Regions from separate parts of the Homo sapiens genome. Here all the other regions are linked to region 2. Evidence: fine-mapped expression QTL. A gene starts in region 2. Each other region holds a variant in brackets. All regions are shown on one strand. Distances are between the middles of the regions. Region 1 has its middle 77 kb from the start of OR13H1. Region 2 holds the start of RAP2C (RAP2C, member of RAS oncogene family). Region 3 overlaps MBNL3 (muscleblind like splicing regulator 3). Region 4 has its middle 47 kb from the start of FIRRE.

What was found. PIP is the estimated chance that this variant, and not a neighbour inherited with it, causes the effect.
Region 1: its variant is fine-mapped to the expression of RAP2C in sigmoid colon (GTEx, PIP 0.99).
Region 3: its variant is fine-mapped to the expression of RAP2C in whole blood (GTEx, PIP above 0.99). The same link has a PIP of 0.9 or more in cerebral cortex.
Region 4: its variant is fine-mapped to the expression of RAP2C in whole blood (TOPMed, PIP 0.93).

Annotation. Positions count from the first base shown.
Region 1 is chrX:131,464,982-131,470,141 of GRCh38, reverse strand. No RefSeq gene overlaps it. Among named protein-coding and RNA genes, the nearest start is that of OR13H1, 77 kb to the left of the region's middle. The variant T/C (reference allele first, on the strand shown) is at 2,353.
Region 2 is chrX:132,216,923-132,222,082 of GRCh38, reverse strand. RAP2C (RAP2C, member of RAS oncogene family) reads left to right here and starts at 2,636. Exons shown (of 6, transcript NM_001271186.2): 1 at 2,636-2,713; 2 at 3,742-3,851; 3 at 4,071-4,167; 4 at 4,277-5,087. The coding sequence starts at 4,815. It overlaps RAP2C-AS1 (RAP2C antisense RNA 1), which reads right to left and starts at 3,576. Exons shown (of 3, transcript NR_110410.1): 1 at 3,246-3,576. RefSeq lists enhancers at 2,265-2,314, 2,645-2,714 and silencers at 4,147-4,196, 4,207-4,646.
Region 3 is chrX:132,395,724-132,400,883 of GRCh38, reverse strand. All of the region lies in intron 3 of MBNL3 (muscleblind like splicing regulator 3), which reads left to right. The region is part of intron 2 of RAP2C-AS1 (RAP2C antisense RNA 1); the gene reads right to left. Among named protein-coding and RNA genes, the nearest start is that of MBNL3, 91 kb to the left of the region's middle. The variant T/C (reference allele first, on the strand shown) is at 2,103.
Region 4 is chrX:131,875,472-131,880,631 of GRCh38, reverse strand. No RefSeq gene overlaps it. Among named protein-coding and RNA genes, the nearest start is that of FIRRE, 47 kb to the right of the region's middle. The variant T/C (reference allele first, on the strand shown) is at 2,545.

The DNA of each region.
Region 1 (5,160 bases), 750 kb after region 2:
GAGAATATTATGTTACACTAAATAAGCTAGGCACAGAAATAAAAATACCACATGATCTCATTTAAATGTGCAATCTAAAAAAGTGAAACTCATAGAAAGAAAGGGTAGAATGATGATTACCAGAGGCTGAGAGAGGGCAATAGGCGAGGAAAGGAGATGTGTTGATCAAAGGGTACAGAATTTCAGTTAGACAGGAGGAATAAGCTTTAGTGATCTATCATACGGAATGGTGATTATAATAAATAATAATGCATTTGTATATTTTAAAACTGCTAAAAGTAAATTTTAAATGTTTCCATTATGAAAAAAATGAGAAGTATGTAAGGTGATGGATTTGTCAACTAGCTTGATTTAGTCATTCTATAATGTAAATATACATCAAAACATCACGTTGTAACCCATATACAATATATACAATTTTTATTTTTAATTAAAAGTTAGAAAATTAAAATTAAAAAACGAAAGTAAAAAAGATACACAAATAACAAGCATATGAAAAGATGCTCAATATCAAGTCATCAGGGAATTGCAATTTAAAATGAGATACTTATTATACAGATATTAAAATAGCTAAAATTTATAACACAATACTGAATGCTGATGAGGATGTGGAACAACAGTAACTCTGACTGGGAATACAAAATGGTATAGTCACTCTGGCAAACAGTTTGGCAGTTTCTTACAAAATTGAATGTATTCTTAACCATATGATCCAGCAATTGTATCTCTTAGTACTTACCAAAATTAGTTGTTGAACTTGTTCCCCTTACATTTATACAATTTTAAAAAAAGAAGAAAACTGCTTACACAAAAACCTGCACACAAATCTTTACAGCATGTTTATTCATAATTGCCAAAACTTGAAAGCAACCAAGATGCCTTTCAATATCAATAGTTGAGTGGATAAACAAACTGTGATACATACATACCATAGAATATTATTCAGCAATAAAAAGAAACAAGATGCCAAGCTACTAAAGAACGTAGATGAATGTTAAGAACGTATTGTTAAGTCAAAGAAATCAATCTGAAAAGGCAACACACTATGATTCCAACTATACAGCACTATTGGAAAGGGAAAAGGATGAAAACAGTAAAAATATAAGTGGTTGCCAGGCTTTGGAGGAAAGGGGTGGAGGAATAAACAGATGGAGTAAGGAGGATTTTTTAGGGCAATAAAACTATTCTGTGTTATACTGTAATTGTGGATACATATCAGTATACATTTGTCAAGATCCGTAGAATGTACAACACTAAGAGTAACTCTAATGCTAACTATGAACTTTAGTTAATACTGCATCCATATTTATATATCAATTATAACAGATGTACCATACTAATGCAAAATGCTAATAGGGGAAATTATCTCAGGGGGCTAGGGAAGTATATGGGAACTCTCTGTACTTTCTGTTCAATTGTTTCTGTAAACCTAAAACTGTTCTTAAAAATAGTCTATTAATTTAAAAACATATAATTTAAAAACAACACTTATATGGCATATCTGCAATTATTCTAGTGTTCAATATTTCTAAAGCAAGTATTACTAATTACCCACTATAGTAATTTTAAAAAAACCTCAACAAAGCAATTATAGAACATCTCATTTAACGCAAAAGCAAAACAATGTAATTTCTTGGTGAATTTACAGAGAGAATACATATGCCAATGATTACAATGTAACTAATACATAGTCATAACCAAATACATGGTCATGCTGTATAAGGCTGTTATTCATAAGCCGCTTAAATATTGGAAGATTTCTACTAAAAATAATGGTTTGGATTTTGGGAGAGCTGATCTGAAGCCATTAGCACTGACAGTATTTAGACGGCAGGGACAGTGTCTTTTGAAATTAATCTTAGTTTTCTGCAGTAAAATCAAATCATCTGCATATAGAAGAATGTTTATCCTTCTTTTTTTATGACAGAGTTTGTGAATCCAAATTGTCCAAAGTGGTCTCCAGTCATCAAAACAAATTTTAAAAGAAAGAGTGGCCAAAACACATGCCACTTTATTCAAAATTGTTCTGTATCTCTTTAAAAACTGTGTATCTAATGACTCTTCGTGGTACTACAGTAGAGGTTCTATATAAGAATCACTAGCCAGCATTCCATACTGTATTCATATACTCATACAACTTGTTTCCATACATCAAATATCAAATAATAGTCAATAAGAGATACAAATGATCTTATGATTTTCCCAGTGGATAATCCTACAAGATGATAGAAATATAAAATTTCTCATTAGCATATTGCCATTCTGAGATCCTACCTGCCCATCTTGTAAACATTTGCTTGAGAATCCAAGATTTGCATTTTGTCAAGGAGACTGGCATGCATTAATGATGGA[T/C]GGTTAATAAGGTCTATCATTTGGGTGGAGTAATGAAGTTGCCTGTTTAAAATAATTTAATAGTCTATATTCTGAGTTCAAAAATGAGACTTTAGTAGTACAATTGTAAGAGTAAACAAATTGCAAGTATTCGAGACCATTATTCAGAGTAATATTTAAATAGTTTGGAGTTAAGAATTTTCATTAGGTGCTTTTCAAAATTGGAACTATAAAATCCTTTGTACAACATGAAAGAGTACTACCAATACAGTGTAAATTAAGAGGATTGAATAATCTAAAATCAAGGGAGTCTGTGGCCATACACCAGAGCACATTGAATGTGCTGTGTGGAGGCTTTCTCCTCACGTTTTAAACCAACAGAATTAAAATTAGAAGAGTAAACAACCAGCTATATTTAGTCATTCTTGAGGTGATGAAAATTTACACAGGACCCTGTCTAGTAACCATTACACCTCCTGGTTTCTTGAGCTATGGATAATAGGACTCATGATGAGGATGATCACTCTGTAAATGACAGATTCCACCTAGCCCAAGATAAGCTATACGTAGAATTGAGTCTTTTTATTATTATTATTATACCTTAAGTTCTAGGGTACATGTGCACAACATGCAGGTTTGTTACACTCCCACTTCTCCCAACCCACAACAGGCCCCGGTATGTGATATTGCTGGCCCTGTGTCCCAGTGTTCTCATTTTTCAATTCCCAACTATGAGTGAGAAAATGCGGTGTGTGGCTTTCTGCCCTTGGCGATAGTTTGCTGAGAATGGTGGTTTCCAGCTTCATCTACGTCCTTACAAAGGACATGAACTCATACTTTTTTATGTTTGCATACTATTCCATGGTTATATGTGCCACATTTTCTTTATCCAGTCTATCATTGATGGACATCTGGGTTGGTTCCAAGTCTTTGCTATTGTGAATACTGCTGCAATAAACATACGTGTGCATGTGTCTTTATAGTAGCACGATTTATAATCCTTTGGGTATATACCCAGCAATGGGATGGCTGGGTCAAATGGTATTTCTAGTTCTAGATCCTTGAGGAATCACCACACCGACTTCCACAATGGTTGAACTAGTTTACAGTCCCACCAACAGTGTAAAAGTGTTCCTGTTTCTCCACATCCTCTCCAGCACCTGTTGTTTCCGGACTTTTTAATGATCGCCATTCTAACTGGTGTGAGATGGTATCTCAGTGTTGTTTTGATTTGCATTTCTCTGAAGGCTAGTGATGATGAGCATTTTTTCATGTGTCTGTTGGCTGCATAAATGTCTTCTTTTGAGAAGTGTCTGTTCATATCCTTTGCCCACTTTTTGATGGGGTTGTTTGTTTTTTTCTTGTAAATTTGTTTAAGCTCTTTGTAGATTCTGGATATTAGCCCTTTATCAGTTGGGTAGATTGCAAAAATTTTCTGCCATTCTGTAAGCTGCCTGTTCACTCTGATGGTAGTTTCTTTTGCTGTGCAGAAGCTCTTTAGTTTGATTAGATCCCATTTGTCAATTTTGGCTTTTGTTGCCATTGCTTTTGGTATTATAGTCATGAAGTCTTTGCCCATGCCTATGTCCTGAATGGTATTGCCTAGATTTTCTTCTAGGGGTTTTTTTTTGTTTGTTTGTTTGTTTTTTTGAGACAGAGTCTGGCCCTATCACCCAAGCTGGTGTGCAGTGGTGCTCTTCTAGGGTTTTTAAGGTTTTAGGTCTAACATTTAAGTCCTTAATCCATCTTGAATTAATTTTTGTATAAAGTGTAAGGAAGGGATCCAGTTTCAGCTTTCTACATATAGCTAGCCAGTTTTCCCAGCACTATTTATTAAATAGGTAATCCTTTCCCCATTTCTTATTTTTGTCTGGTTTGTCAAAGATCAGATGGTTGTAGATATGCAGTTTTATTTCTGAGGGCTCTGTTATGTTCCATTGGGCTATATCTCTGTCTTGGTACCAGTACCATGCTATTTTGGTTACTGTAGCACATTGATTGTGTATGCTGAGACTTTGCTGAAGTTGCTTATCAGCTTAAGGAGATTTTGGGCTGAAACGATGGGGTTTTCTAAATATACAATCATGTCATCTGCAAACAGGGACAATTTGACTACCTCTTTTCCTAATTGAATACACTTTATGTCTTTCTCTTGCCTGATTGCCCTGGCCAGAACTTCCAACACTATGTTGATCAGGAGTGGTGAGAGAGGGCATCCCTGTCTTGTGCCAGTTTTCAAAGGGAATGCTCCCAGTTTTTGCCCATTCAGTATGATATTGGCTGTAGGTTTGTCATAAATAGCTCTTATTATTTTGAGATACGTCCCATCAATGCCGAGTTTATTGAGAGTTTTTAGCATGAAGGCTGTTGAATTTTGTCAAAGGCCTTTTCTGCGTCTATTGAGATAATCATGTGGTTTTTGTCTTTGGTTCTGTTTATATGCTGGATTATGTTTATTGATTTGCATATGTTGAACCAGCCTTGCATCCCAGGGATGAAGCCCACTTGATCATGGTGGATAAGCTTTTTGATGTGCTGCTGGATTTGGTTTGCCAGTATTTTATTGAGGATTTTTGCATCAATGTTCATCAGGGATATTGGTCTAAAATTCTTTTTTTTGTTGTGTCTCTGCCAGGCTTTGATATCAGGATGATGCTGGCCTCATAAAATGAGTTAGGGAGGATTCCCTCTTTTTCTATTGATTGGAATAATTTCAGAAGGAATGGTACCAGCTCCTCCTTGTACCTCTGGTAGAATTCGGCTGTGAATCCGTCTGGTCCTGGACTTTTTTTGGTTGGTAAGCTATTAATTATTGCCTCAATTTCAGAA
Region 2 (5,160 bases):
AAGGGCATGATCTCTAGAGAAGTCCTCCCATTCCCCTCTTCCCATATTCAAGCCTTTGGAGTAGAAAATTATTACTTGAGCAGTTTCTATTTATTGAGCAATTAATATTTGGAAGGCTAAATGCTTTGAATGGATTTCTCATTTATTATTCTATGAGTTAGATACTGCTATTATGCCCAACTTTACAAATGAAGGAATGGAGGTGTAGCTTGCAAAAGGGCAGTGTTAGGACTGTCTGGCTCTGAAGTCCAAATTCCTTCTAAAACGCTGCCCTGCATTTGTTAGTCCTGAAAATACCCTAAAGCAAGTAACAATCACTATAAAATGCTAAAATTAGTAATACCTACTGTGAGGTTATAAAATGATACGGTCATACTGCATTGGTGGGAATGTGAATTGGTGTGACCTTTCTGAAGGACAATTTGGCAATACTTACCAGAAGAATTTTAAGTGCAAGTGCCTTTTGTTTCAATTATTGAATTACTAGAAATTCACCCTAAACATTAACTGACAATGATATATGTCCAAGGCGTTTAGTGCAAAAACCTAGAAGCAATCAGTGTCCTTCAAAGGGGAGCTGGCTAATTAGCTTATGATACAGCCATGAAATAAAAATTAAGAAGGCCAGACATGGTGGCTCATGCCTTTAATCCCAGCACTTTGGGAGGCCAAGTCGGGAGGATCCCTTGAGCTCAGGAGTTGGAGACCACCATGGGCAACATAGTAAGACTCCATCTCTACCAAAAAAATTAAATTAAATTAAATTAGCTGTGTGTGGTGGCATGTACCTGTAGTCCTAGCTACTCGGGAGGCTGAGGTGGGAGGATCCCTTGAGTCCAGGAGGTTGAGGCTGCAGTGAGCTATGATCATGCTACTGCCCTCCAGCTTGGGTAACAGAGGGAGACACTGTCTTAAAAAAATTAATTAATTAAAGTTTAAAAAGCAAGGTAAAAAATAGTGTGTACAGTTGATTACTTTTGTAGTACAGTAATTTTTAAAAATATATATAGAAGGTAGATTGATACACTGACATATGAATAATGTTCCCCCCTGAAAAACATAAGAAGCTTTTAACAATAAATATCTTTGTGAAGAGTAACTGAATTATTATTTTCGTGCCACTTGCAGATATTTGAGCTTTTAAAATTTTGTTACCCCCATGTTTGCTATTTTTTAAAAATTAACAATTCATTAAATCTTTTAAATAAAAACCAAATAGCATTTATTGAGGCTTTATAATGTGCAAGGGACTGTGCTAAGCACTTTACCTGTAATACCTCATTACATTTTCACGTTAACTTCTTATCTCCTTTTTACAAGTGAGGAGTTAGAGGCTCAGACAAGTGAAATCACTTGCTTGGGGACACAGAGCTAGAATGTGGCGGAGCTGCAATTTTAATGCACCTCTGTCTCATTTCAGAGCCTTAGCTCTCAACTGCCAGGCCGCACTCTTCTGCTTGCTCTTTATACCCTCATTGCTTAATGAGAGTACACTAGCAAACAACAGGAGTCTAATGAGATAATGTATGTGAAAATACTTTTCTAAGTATAGAGATGTTTGGGGAGGGCAAGCAAGGGTAGGGAATTTGTTTAAATTGGGCGGACCTGTCCACTGACCCCTAGACAGTCAGGATTTTTTTTTTTTTTTTTTACAAAACCAAGATCAACAACTTTCTTTTGTTCCTCCTTTAAAAATATTATAAAGTTATATTTACTTCCTTTTTCCCAATTATTGTTTATAAATTAAAATATGGAGAAATAAAAGCCATTTCATAATAGTCCTCACCCATAATTACTTTGTTTCAGATTTGAATGGCTATGTAACTATTACACACCTGCGTTTTACATAAACAGTAGCAACTAGACATTTGTTCAGTATCTTGCTTTTTCAGCCCTACAATATATCTTGGCCATCTTTTTATATAAACACTTACAAATCTGCTTTTCTCTTTTAAAGTAGCTGCATAATATCCTATTCTGTGAATACAGATAGGTAGGTAGGTAGGTTGGTAGATAGATAGATAGATGATAGATAATAGATATAGAGAGCTATGAAACTTTTAAAAATCACCTACTGAAGGACATTTAAGCTTCTTCCAATTGTTTGATTTCCTAATCAATGCTGTAATGAATACCCTTCCTAAGAAAGTTTAGAAGGATCTTTAGACTGAGTGTAATATTTGTCCACTGTAGTTGACGAGAGTGACCCCACAGGACGCTGTACTGAGGGGAGGAGTATGTTTCACTGCGTGGAGAAACAAAGAACTCTCTCCTAAGCATGACCAACACATTCAGAGATATTAGAATTGCCAACAGGTGGGATGACCTGAAAAAGAACTCCTTGCTTTGACAGTTTAGTAATAGAGCAAAGACTTGCCACGATTGCTCAACACTGGCTGGATCAGAAGAGGAATTTCCAGACTCAGTTACAAGCACGGCTGGTGGAGGGCTGTGAATCCCACCAGACAGTCTGGAGACAGCTAGGCAGGGAGATGAGCAGCAGAGCTCCAAATCAGGCAACAGCACGTGTGAAAGGAGCAGTGACCTGTGGGGAAACTCATAACTCACAGACCAAACCCCTTCCAGCAGAGGGCAGTGCCTCTGATACGACACAGGGCCCAGGCCAGCTGGAGCCAGAGCTGGGGACTTCGCTGGAGAGATGGCACCGGCCTGAGGTCAAGGAGAAATTGAACTAAACTCTCCTTTGAAGACTGTAAGTGACATTGGGGAATACTCAGGGAGGGACAGTGGGACCTCACACTACTATGATTCGCCTGTGTTCTAATGTCCAACAATTTAGGCTGAGTAATAAATCTCTTTATAGAGTTTGGCCATTTAGGGCTTGTAAGTAAGGGAATTTGGAGTCATTTTTGCTAGGCTGGCCACTGAGTCTCGCAGGTTTCTGGGTACATGCTTGAATTGAAAAGAAAGTGACACACCTAAAATACAGCCTAGACTCCTGGCCCTGGGGCTCTGTGGATCCGACACAAAGTTTACAAATAGAAAGCTAGCAAAGGGAAAGATAGTCGGAAGTAACAATTTTATCTAAAAATAGAAACTTAGAATCTAACACCAGAGTTACTACTTGCTTTTGAATTTCAAAGACTACATAGGATGGCCTTTAAAACAAAACTTCAGCATGTAAGAGCCAGCCAAGCAAATTGTTATACATAATCAACGATTAAAATAAATTAGTCTTTAGGCCTAAACCGTTTCCAATCAAATCTTTCTTGAATATTGGTTACCTTTTCTGCCGTGTAGTGGTTGGAATCAAATGAGAACATAGCTGAGCAGAGTACCATAAAGTCTACTTCTAATGCTGCTGTTTTCGAGCCTTGTGATTTTTTTTTAAGTGACTTTAGTATTCGCTGGTAAAGTCAAGGCGGATCTACCAGACGGTAAAAGTTCTGTGTGTTTGTCAGGCACGGCTAAGTAAAACGCACTGCATCTGAAAGTCTAAGGGTAGTTTGCATGCATCTCTCAGCAAAATAGCAAGTGGAAGAAATACCAGCAAGGAGAATAAACTTTCTGGGCTGTTTGATTTCCCCTGCAACTTCTAGTCCAGGGATGTTTGGCGTTCTCCCGGTCGCTAGATTATTAGCCCGCAGGTTCCGCACCGGCCAGGGAGCCGCTCAAGTCCTAGGGCCGGGCGGCTGGAGGTTGCAGGTCGGAGGGGCTTCTACGGGTTTGGGGGTGGGACGGTCCGCGGCAGCCGCGGGCGGGTAAGGACTGACGTCGCAGGTTTCCAGAGGCCCGTTCCCGAAGCCGGAGTCCCGACCCGAAACCGTCCCCGGCCGGCTCGCTCGCTCAGCAGGGCGCGGCTCCAGCGCCACCCGGCTCGCCCCGAAGAGGTGGGACTTTCCCCACCGGAAGTGATCCCGTCCAGTCTCGGGGAACTGGGGCACCTCAGCCAGTGTGTCAGGGAAACCCTTCCGGGTGTGTGCTTGGTGGGGGTGGGGGTGGGGGTGGGGGTGGGGGTGGGGGGTGGGTGAGAAAAAAAAGAGGTGGGTTCGCCTGGAGTCCCTGCGGCCGCCGCGGAAGGCCCCCGCTTCTTTCCCCGCGGCGAGCAGCAGCGCTGGGGCAGCGGAGAGACAGAGGAGCCAGCGGGTGGCCATGGCCTTGGCGTGACAGAGCCTCCCCGGCGGCCGGGCGGGTGCGGACGGCGGGGTAAGCGGCAGTAGCTTGATCCGGGTGGGAGTTGGGGGAGGCGGCGGCCGGCGCCGCAGGTTCGGGGCGGGGGTCAGCCGGGTAATGTGCGTCCTTCTCCCCTTCACAGGCCGGACGACCCCCGCGGGAGCCGGGGCCCAGAAACCCGCCCGGGCAGCGGTAACTGGAACGGAGCCCTCAGGCCTGAGCCGGCTGGGCTGCGCGAGCAGGAAGCGGGGTCCCTGGGCCCCTTTGTGTGAAGGGCGGGGGAGGAGTGCCGGGCAGCCCCGGGCTGCGGGCTCCTCCGACGTCCGCCTCGCCGCAGGGTCCCCTCGCCGCAGCCCCCACCCTTTCCCTCCCGGGGGCACGCGCCTCCTCGCCACCCTCGCCGGGCTTTTCCCAGGCTCGCCCTCCTCCCCACGCCCCCTGCTCGGGCTGCAGTTCCTATAGGAAGGGCATTACCATCCCTTCCCCACCCTCCCCGACTCTACGCTCTTTCCCCTCCCCCTCCTGTAACTTCCTCTTCTTCCCCGGTTGGGCCCTCTGCTCCTCTGCACTCTCCTCCCCAGTTCGCAGATTTCCGCCCACCTTCCGCCTCGTCTAGCCGCGCCACAGCTAGCGGGGTGATCTTTCCCCCCCTCTGGTAGGAGTTGGTGAAGGTGAGACTCATGAGGGAATACAAGGTAGTGGTGTTAGGGAGTGGAGGGGTTGGCAAATCTGCCCTTACTGTGCAGTTTGTCACTGGGACTTTCATTGAGAAATATGACCCCACCATTGAAGATTTCTACCGCAAAGAGATCGAAGTGGACTCTTCCCCCTCCGTGCTGGAAATTCTGGACACCGCAGGAACTGAGCAGTTTGCCTCCATGAGAGATCTCTACATCAAAAACGGCCAAGGTTTCATCCTGGTTTATAGCCTGGTTAATCAACAGTCTTTTCAGGTAACCAAACCAAGTCTTGTAATTTGTTAGAAGGGGGTGTGGTAATCCGACATCGACTTCTGGGTTGCTTGAA
Region 3 (5,160 bases), 180 kb before region 2:
ATATAATTACAACAGTCATGATCATGTGAACTTCCGCATTGAGGTTGACCAAATCATATCACAGAAGTGCCTGGAGTGCTACCATGCCATGATCATCTGGATTTTACTACATTTTCTGAAAGATTAGACAAAATTTTACTTTTAGGTATATCAACTGAAGCCTACTGTAATCTGTTTGTTCAACTAACATTGTTTTTAAGGTGTACTTACCCTGAGACTAACATGAGGGGTTTAGGGATGCTCATTTGCATGGTTTCCTTCCAAAACCCTGAGAGGGGTCCTAGCAACGTGTTTAAAATGTGTTTGTAAAATTTGCAAAATATATTCGTGTGTTTCATTCTTAAGGCTCCACTTCCCCACCCAGTGGTCTAAGCTTCAGACCCCACATATCCTAGATTTGCTCCTCATTGCAATTACTGGTCCAAAGTAGAGTAGTTATTCGGGCCTTTTGCTAATAAGACTGTGTATGTCACATAGCTTAAAGCTTCTTTTACGTTAAAACAAAATAAATCCCCTAGCAGTCCCTTTGCTGCTTTGCCCCATCTCTGTTAATAGACACTGTGAAATCTGCTTTTTTCAAAAGTTGAATGAAAATGCTACACTTTTGCAGCCAAACAGAGGACACTTGTACATGATATCTTCTTTATTTTATTTTATTATTATTATACTTTAAGTTTTAGGGTACATGTGCACAATGTGCAGGTTAGTTACATATGTATACATGTGCCATGCTGGTGTGCTGCACCCATTAACTCATCATTTAGCATTAGGTATATCTTCTATAGTGTCCAGTTTCTTTGATAGTCACAAATCTCAACATTCTCCCTTTATCATCCTTTATATATTCCCGTGAGATAAATTACATGTAACCTCCTCTATTTTGTGTCCTTCTCCTCTGGGGCTGGTTAGCTCAGTTAGTTGGAGCCTGGTGCTAATGAGACCATGGTGGCCTGTGAGCTTCACTGTTCGTGGTCACAGTGTAAGCTACAGCCAGCTACCTTGAGATTGCTTGCTGTTGATCACAAATGAGGTGAAGGCTGGGAGTTTGGTGGGCTCTGTGAATTTTTTTTTTTTTTTTTACCTGCAGGTTGGTATGGCTCAGTAATTTGTCAATGAGAGGAGACCTTATATAAAAACCTGTGGCTGCCCTACCACCTGATAATTAAAGTGGTACCCCCAAGCATTTCTAATTTGCCTTAATATCCTGTAATCATCTGTTAAATATTCATTTACACCCTTCTTTCCGTGGTCTTCTCTCTTGAACCACTCTGGATACCAGTCACATTAGCAATTCATTAATCACCTGGATTATACACATTGTGAATTACTTTGTGTATAAAAAGGTGTGAATTACTTTGTGTATTACAAAGTGTATAAAAAATTACTTTTTATACACTTTGTAATAAAGTTACATATTTTTATCTATAGTATCACTAAATCACTTTTTTTTAGAACTCTTAATTAGGTACCTTCTAGTATGGATTTAGCCACTCCAATTTTAAAAATACATACACATATGGGATTCATGTATGTACATATGTACATATGTATGTATAAAATACCCTGTGCTTTTCATACTGTTTGATCTAGCAATTCATATCTTTATCAAAAGACAGCTTAGGACTAGCCATCTGCCTAAAGTCTTCCTCAGTGGAGAACAAGACTGAAGGATTTATTCAATTTCTTTGCCACCATTTTTGAAACTACTTTTACTTCTTTTTGCACTCTGATTTTTAAATTGGGTTGATCTATTTAGTAAATCAAAAATTAATTAATGGTTTAGGAATCCCTTTTTATTGAATTCAGTAAGTATTGAGCATATACTCTGTGACAGGTATTTAAATGAGTAAAGGGTGGATAAAAAGATGATCAAGAAACAAACTCTACCCTCTAGGAATTCGTTATGTAACAAAAGTAAGATGTTGGATGAATATTTTCTGGTCCCCTTAATTTCTGATTTGTACCTGATTCTTCATATTTTTGTAGCTTTGGGCCTTTCTTTTTTCAACATAGAATTATCTTTCTATTAGCCATGCAAGGTTCTGTTTTGGTTTGTGTTGTTTTGATGGTGGTGGTGGTGGTGGTTGTGGTTGGTCAAACCC[T/C]TGATAATTTTAAACTCTTAGCCTACCTATTTATCTAACTTTCACTGACATGTTCATAAATAGTCTCCAGGTTTCCTGTGGGTTCCTTGCTTTGCTCAGTTCTTCCTATTTATCTCCCAAAAACCCACATTTTGTTTATACCCTTTGTTAAAACTAGATAACCACTTAATTCTTTGAACTACTTCAATGAGGTATGATTGACACACAAAAGCTGCACATGTTCAATGTATACAAATTGATGACTTTGGAGACAAACAGATGCTCATGATACTATTACTACAATCCATGCCACAAACTTGATTTTTTAAAAAATAATCTTTGTTTCCTACTAGAATACTAAAGTTAATTGAATTGCCATTATTATTACACGGTGGTCACCAACAAATTTTTAGGTCAATTCCTGTTCACCTCCTCAGGAACAATGTCAAAGTTACCCTGCTTATAAGTGTCAATCATTTGCTCTCTTCCTAGGTGATGTGCTGATCTGTGTTTAGGTACTCCTTTATGATTCCTGGCCTGCTGTTGTATTTCTCCTCCCAGCAAATATGGGTAGCTCTGAACCATGACTTGTGTTCTCATTTGTGTTATTCTTTATACCTCTTATACTCACAATCACCTATTGATCTTTCAACTAACCTGCCTGCCTTCAATGGTTCCTCTTACTTGGAGAATTCTCTGATTAATAAGATCAGAAAATCCAGGTCTAGGTGAGGACAATGGTTCACTTTTGACCCATGAACTTTTTTTTTCTTAGCTCTCTCTAGAGCCATGGGGACTTATTCATTAACAAGTACGATTAGTACTTAAACACCACTATCAGCTTGCATCTGTTTTTAAAGTTAACTCTCAATTATTGAGAAACTAATTAACTAGTCTGGAGGTTATGTGGGTCTCCTGCAGCCTGCATTTTGGCCACTTCAGTCCCCACGGAACATTACTCAAGGAGTGTGGAAATGACCAAGCAAATACTGTGAAAGAGAGATTATTCAATTGTACTCTGTGTGAAAGTGAAGTCTGATGGAAACTAAAATTATGGATTTCAGTGCATTTTGGGATTATCTAAAGATAGAAATATGCATGATGACCGTAAAAAGAGCCTTCCTTTTATATTATATAAATGCTTGCAAATGAGCAATAAAATGAAGATATTATGACGCTAGTAAAATTTATGAGTGCTATTTTTCTTGTATTAAAATTGGGTCAACAAATTGTTACCAAATGTTTACCCTTCTGTAAAAGAAAATATCTAGTCATTCAACTCTAGACAGGAACTCAGAGATGGAAGGCCCCGATTATTCTGTTGACCTTAGGCCAGGATTTTGAAATATTTTACATTCATCCAACAATAATTGTAATTGATCTTGGATATTTTTGAGGTAACTACAAATAGATCTAGGCTATTGAGGAGACACAAAGATTGATTTGGCATAACATTTAATTTTCATTTATTTATACTAGCTTGAGAAATAACCTGTTAAGTCACTGTTCCTAAAGTGTGTGTAAACTAGACATTTATTTGAGGCATAGTTTTGCATTGAATTGCATTGCCTCAGAATCCTTTAAGAGCAATCTGTGGTGGCTTTTAAAATTTTTACCTTTACAGGATTCCAACTACTATTTCCCCATTCTTAGTCACGGAGTAGTGATTGTTCTATAAACAAATAGTTAAAAATCCTAATCCTAATATTAGTAACTATGTAAAAGAACATTTTAGTGAATACCTTAGTATTGGTTTACAAAGCCAAACATTTTCAATTTGTGGAATCTTGCTACAAATACTAAATTCATATACATATATATTCATATATATTCATATATATATGAATATATATGAATATATATATGAATGTATATATGAATATATATGTATATATGTATATATGAATATATATATGAATATATATGTATATATGAATATATATATGAATATATATGTATATATGAATATATATATGAATATATATATGTATATATGAATATATATGAATATATATATGAATATATATATGTATATATGAATATATATATGAATATATATATATATGAATATATATATGAATATATATGAATATATATATGAATATATATATGAATATATATATATGAATATATATATGTGAATATATATGTGAATATATATATGTGAATATATATGAATATATATATGAATATATATAGGAATATATATAGGAATATATATAGGAATATATATAGGAATATATATAGGAATATATAGGAATATATATATGAATATATATATGAATATATATGAATATATATAGGAATATATATAGGAATATATATGAATATATATAGGAATATATATATAGGAATATATATGAATATATATAGGAATATATATATAGGAATATATATGAATATATATAGGAATATATATATGAATATATATGAATATATATAGGAATATATATATATGAATATATATGAATATATATGAATATATATTTGGTGCTTTACTCCTGAAAGCGTTGGAGAATTTCATTTTTTGAAATCATTTAGAACCAAGGTCGGTGAACTTTCTTGTGAATGGCTAAATATAAATATTTTAGGCTGTGAGGTTCAAGATGCAAAGTTGAGGGTATTATATAGGTACTTATATAACAAGAGAGGAAACAAATATCTACAATTTTTTGTAATACAGCTCTACTAATGAGCACAATGAAATTTGTGGATGGACACTGGAATAAGAGTTTCCTATAATTTTCATGTTTCACTAAATATTATTCTCTTATTTTTTTCAATCATTTAAAACTGTAAAAAACATTCTTAGATTGCTGGCCATACAAAAACACAGGCAGGCTGAATTTGGCTTATGGGCCCTAGTTTGCAGAGCCTTACTCTAGAACAGAGATTCTTAACCAGTAAGTAGTTCATAACCCCACACCAGGGGTGAGTGTCGTGGGGTCCTTGAACTTGCTGAGATCACAAGCAACATTTTTTGCATACATGAATTTTTCTGTGGACAGAGTCTGCAGCCTTTATCTGACTCTTGGAGAAGTCCTGGACTCAAAAAAGATTAGGAGCCAGTGTTGTCTAG
Region 4 (5,160 bases), 340 kb after region 2:
TCACCACCTTGTCATTCTTTGCATGTCAAGGTCCCTAGCTGATCTGCCTTCTTCTCTTCGCCTTTGAGCATCTTTGTACGTTTATTTTATACATATTGCCCAGGGCTTTTCATTGTACTTAGTAGGGGGAATAGAGAAAAATGCAACTATTACATCTTTAAGATATTGAAAGCTTTTACACAAAGAGATGGCCTGAATGGAGAGGTAAATCTGACTACAGCATGATGGATAGATGAAAGCACAGATGACTAAAGTTAGAGAGACCAGTTAAGAAGGCATTGTGGTAAGTCAGGTGAGAAGTAATGGTAACCTGAAGTAGAATAGTAGCAAAGAAAATGAGGAGAAAAGTGCATACTCATTCATTTGTTCAATTATGGATTGATTCATTAATACAGCAATATTTATCAGCAACCTACTACATGCCACATGGTGATGAAACAGTAGAGAAAAATATACTCTTCCTACCTTCCTGGAGGTTTTTTTTGTCTAGAATGTAGTTTTTTGTAAAATTTTAGGACATACAGTTTACAATAATTATTGATAAGTTGGATGTGGGTGGTCATGATTGAGAGTGAGAAATTGGAAGCGATATCAAAGATTTTGCCATTGTCAACTGTGTGGGTTGCAGTGCCATTCACTGAAATAAGAAACATAAGGGGAAGAGCAAATATTAAAGGAGTAATGGTTACATTTTGTACATGTAGATTTTGAGGTGCCTACAGACATCAAATGATCATTGAAACTACTGGAAATGGATACTTTCTCAAAGAGAGAGAATACAATGTGAAGAGGAGAGGGCCCAGTAGCAAGTCTTGAGTAACTCCAATGTTTAATGACTATATTGAGGAGGAAAGCATCTGAAGGAGAACATGAATGAGTGTTCAGAGAAGTAGGACGAAAAGATAAACCTAATACCTTAAATTCTCAAATCAAAGCAGAGAATGGAGAATCAGAGTCTCTGGCAGTCTTAACTAGAATCCCTTCATTAACCTACCTATATTAAGGGCAGACATGGCTGAGAAGCAGGACAAAGGCCTGATTGTAAGAATTCAAAAGTTGTAGCACTGTCACAACCTCACCAAGTTATGCTAGGTTAAGGGCAATAGTAGGAAAAGTGTGGGACCATAAGCTGTGGGATGAGGACATTTGGGCAGATCCAGAAGCAGTAGCAATCCACCCCAACCCATTAATGTGAGGGTGCCATTCTTCCTTTGCATGAAGTCTTTTCAATGTCTTCACCTGAGGAAGTTGCCTCACAAAAAATATTTATTCTTCTCAGAATCTATTGTCAGTATCCTTTATTGAATGTAGGATTTAAAATTAGGTCCCAATATACCACAGAAGAAATGCAAGATGTGATCAGGGAGGAGATAATGTATGTGTTAAAAGAGTTGCAAGGTTTGCTAATTTATGTCAGCAGGAATTTGAAGGGCAGATATGGAAATGTATACAAAGAGTATTAGACCAACAAGGAAAAACATGAAATTGTATTTGGTTGAATTTATTGATATGGGTGTATTTATCTGAAATTCTGGATTTAATTTGTTAACTTGAGCACTTGGGAGTATTGCTAACTGTCTTTTGACTTGGTTATTTAAAATCAATTGTAGCATACAGTCAACTGGGTTAAGGTATCAGACTTTCTTAGTATAGTTTTAAGAAAGGAACACAAAGATTTAAGAAGAAAGATGGGAAAGTCACAGATCTGTTTCACGTAACTTGCTCAGTCACGCCTTAACTACAGCCTTTGGGAGAGACCAGAAGACAGTGTCTTCACGAAGGCATTACAAAATCCGTGCTAAGAAAGATCTATGGTGGTTTCCCTCCATATCCCAAGGTTATTGTGGTAGTTATCAACATGGAATTGGGAGCCCAGCTTTGAACAATAATAATTATATCCCAGAGAAGTGTGGCCAGGTGGTGTGCTTAACCATCATTGACAAGATGGCCAAATTACCACAATAAGGCACATATAGAATGTTTTCTGGCCTGCAGTGATCGGTGTGGTAGCTAATTAATCACAAGATTCAGAGAAATGAATGAGATAGGTAGCCTACTAAGGTGCAATTAATCTGTGCAAGAGGAAACATTTTAGTAGAAACCTGACTCAAGTTGCCATAGTAAGAAATCATAATGGTCTCTTATTTGGTTCCCAGCCTATTCCTTTTTACAGGCCTAGAGATCCTTGATTGTAGGGGAGGCAATGCCTCTTTTTGGAAGAATCTTACAATGCAACCACAAGTCTATACAGGTATATGCCGGAGACAGGGCGTGTACAGTTCCAGAACACTATAAAACAGTTAATATATCAATGTGGCAAGTCACACATACTTTTTGGCTTCCCAGTGCATATAAAAGTTATGTTTAAAGTATACTTTAGTCTATTAAGTGTGTAATAACATTATGTCTTTAAAAATCAATGTACATACCTTAATTTAAAAATACTCTATTGCTAAAAATGCTAATGATCATCTGAGCCTTCAGCAAGTCGTCATCTTCATGTTGGCAGAGGGTCTTGCCTCAATGTGGATGGCTGCTAACTGA[T/C]CAGGGTAGGGTGGCTGTGGCAATTTCTCAAAATAAGACAACAATGAAGTTTGCCACATCGATTGACCCTTCCTTTCATGAAAGATTTCTCTATAGCATGTGATGCTGTTTAATAGCATGTTACACACAGTAGAACTTCCTTCAAGACTGGAGTCAATCCTCTCAAACCCTGCTGCTGTTTTGGCACAAGAGGCCCAGCTCCCAGCCTGTCTCAGCTTTTGACCTGCTTTCCTCACTAAGCTTAATCATTTCTAGCTTTTGATTTAAAGTGAAAGATGTGCAACTCTTCCTTTTACTTGAACATTTAGAAGCCATTGCAGGGTTATTAATTGGACTAATTCCAATATTGTTTTATCTCAGGGAATAAGGGGGCCAGAGGAGAGAAAGAGAGATGGGGGAATGGCCGGTTGGTGGAGCCGTCAGAATAAGCACAATATTTACTGATTAACTTCAGTGTCTTATATGGGCATGCCTGGCACCCCAAAACAATTATAATAGTAACAAGAAAGATCTCTGATGACAGATTACCATAAAAGATATAACAATCATGAAACAGTTTGAAATATTGTGAGAATGACCAAAATGTGACACAGAGACACAAAGTGAGCACATTCTGTAGGAAAAATGACACCAGTAAACTTAACCAATGCAGGGTTGCCACAAATCTTCTATTTGTAGCAAACATAGTATCTGCAAAGTGCAGTAAAGCAAAGCGCCACTAAACAAGATGTGCCTGTACAGTGAATCTTCCTTTAAATCTCACCCGGAAAGAAATGCAACCCTTTACCAGGGCTACTATGCACTGTGAAAAGAGAAATTTCCAGCTCTTCCAAGAATCATCAGGTACCGTTTATTAACTTGGAGATCCCAAATACCATCATGGCCTACTGATCAGAATGGTAGTTTCTGAAATTCAGGGGATAGACCGAGCACTGGCCCAAGTTTATTTAACGTTGGATCCATTGGTCCCACAGATGCACTCTGTAATGATTTTCCCAGTCCTTTGATATATAGCAGGAATAAGTATACTTAGAAACTGTCAGAATCACCATGGAATGAGGGCTCTTGCAGTAGAAAGGGCCGAGTGAAGATCCTATTAACTTGTTTCTCCCCTCAATATCCTCACCCAAATAATAAATCCAAATCAATACCTTATCTTTGGGGGGAGCTACAGAGATCAGTGCCACTACCAAGGCCTCAAAAAATGCATGGATGTTGATTCTTATAACAACTTCATTTAATTTACCTGTTTGTCAAGTGCAAAAGTCATGTGGGTATTATAAAAGACTGTGGATTATTATAAACAAAAGGGTGATGCAATTCACCACTGCAGTTTCAGACATGGTATCTTCAGATTGTAGCAAACTGAAACAGCTCTGCCACTTTGTTTTGCAGCCACTGACCAAGCAAATGCATCCTTTTAAATTCCCATCAGAAAAAATCATCAGAAACAGTATATCTTTACCTGTTAATGTCAACAGCACACCTTCTCAGTCTTACATTGACCAAAATCTATTTTCCTGCTCTGTCATAATACAATCAGTCCAAGGGAGTCTTGATTATCTCAACATTCTAGAAAATATTACACTGGTCTATTACACTGACGTAATTATGCTAATTGAACTGATACGGAAGTAATAATTACCTTAGATACCCTTACTAAGGCACAGATGTCAAAATGTGGGAGATAAACTCCGCGAAAGTTCAGCTGTCTGGGACCCTGGTGATTTTTTTTATATACTTTACGTTCTAGGGTACATGTGCACAACGTGCAGGTTTGTTACATATGTATACATGTACCATGTTGGTGTGCTGCACCCATTAACTCATCATGTACATTAGGTATATCTCCTAATGCTATCCCTCTCCCCTCCCCCCACCCCACAACAGGCCCTGGTGTGTGATGTTCCCCTTCCTGTGTCCAAGTGTTCTCATTGGTCAATTCCCACCTATGAGTGAGAACATGCGGTGTTTGGTTTTTTGTCCTTGCAATAGTTTGCTGAGAATGATGGTTTCCAGCTTTATCCATGTCCCTACAAAGGACATCAACTCATCCTTTTTTATGGCTGCATAGTATTCCATGGTGTATATGTGCCACATTTTCTTAATCCAGTCTATCATTGATGGACATTTGGGTTGGTTCCAAATCTTTGCTATTGTGAATAGTGCCACCATAAACATACATGTGCATGTGCCTTTATATCAGCATGATTTATAATCCTTTGGGTATATACCCAATAATGGGATGGCTGGGTCAAATAGTATTTCTAGTTCTAGATCCTTGAGGAATCACCACACTGTCTTCCACAGTGGTTGAACTAGTTTACAGTCCCACCAACAGTGTAAAAGTGTTCCTATTTCTCCACATCCTCCCCAGCACCTGTTGTTTCCTGACTTTTTAATGATCGCCATTCTAACTGGTGTGAGATGGTATCTCATTGTGGTTTTGATTTGAATTTCTCTGATGGCCAGTGATGATGAGCATTTTTTCATGTGTCTGTTGACTACATAAATGTCTTCTTTTGAGAAGTGTCTGTTCATATCTTTGCCCACTTTTTGATGGGGTTGTTTGTTTTTTTCTTGTAAGTTTGTTTGAGTTCTTTGTAGATTCTGGAT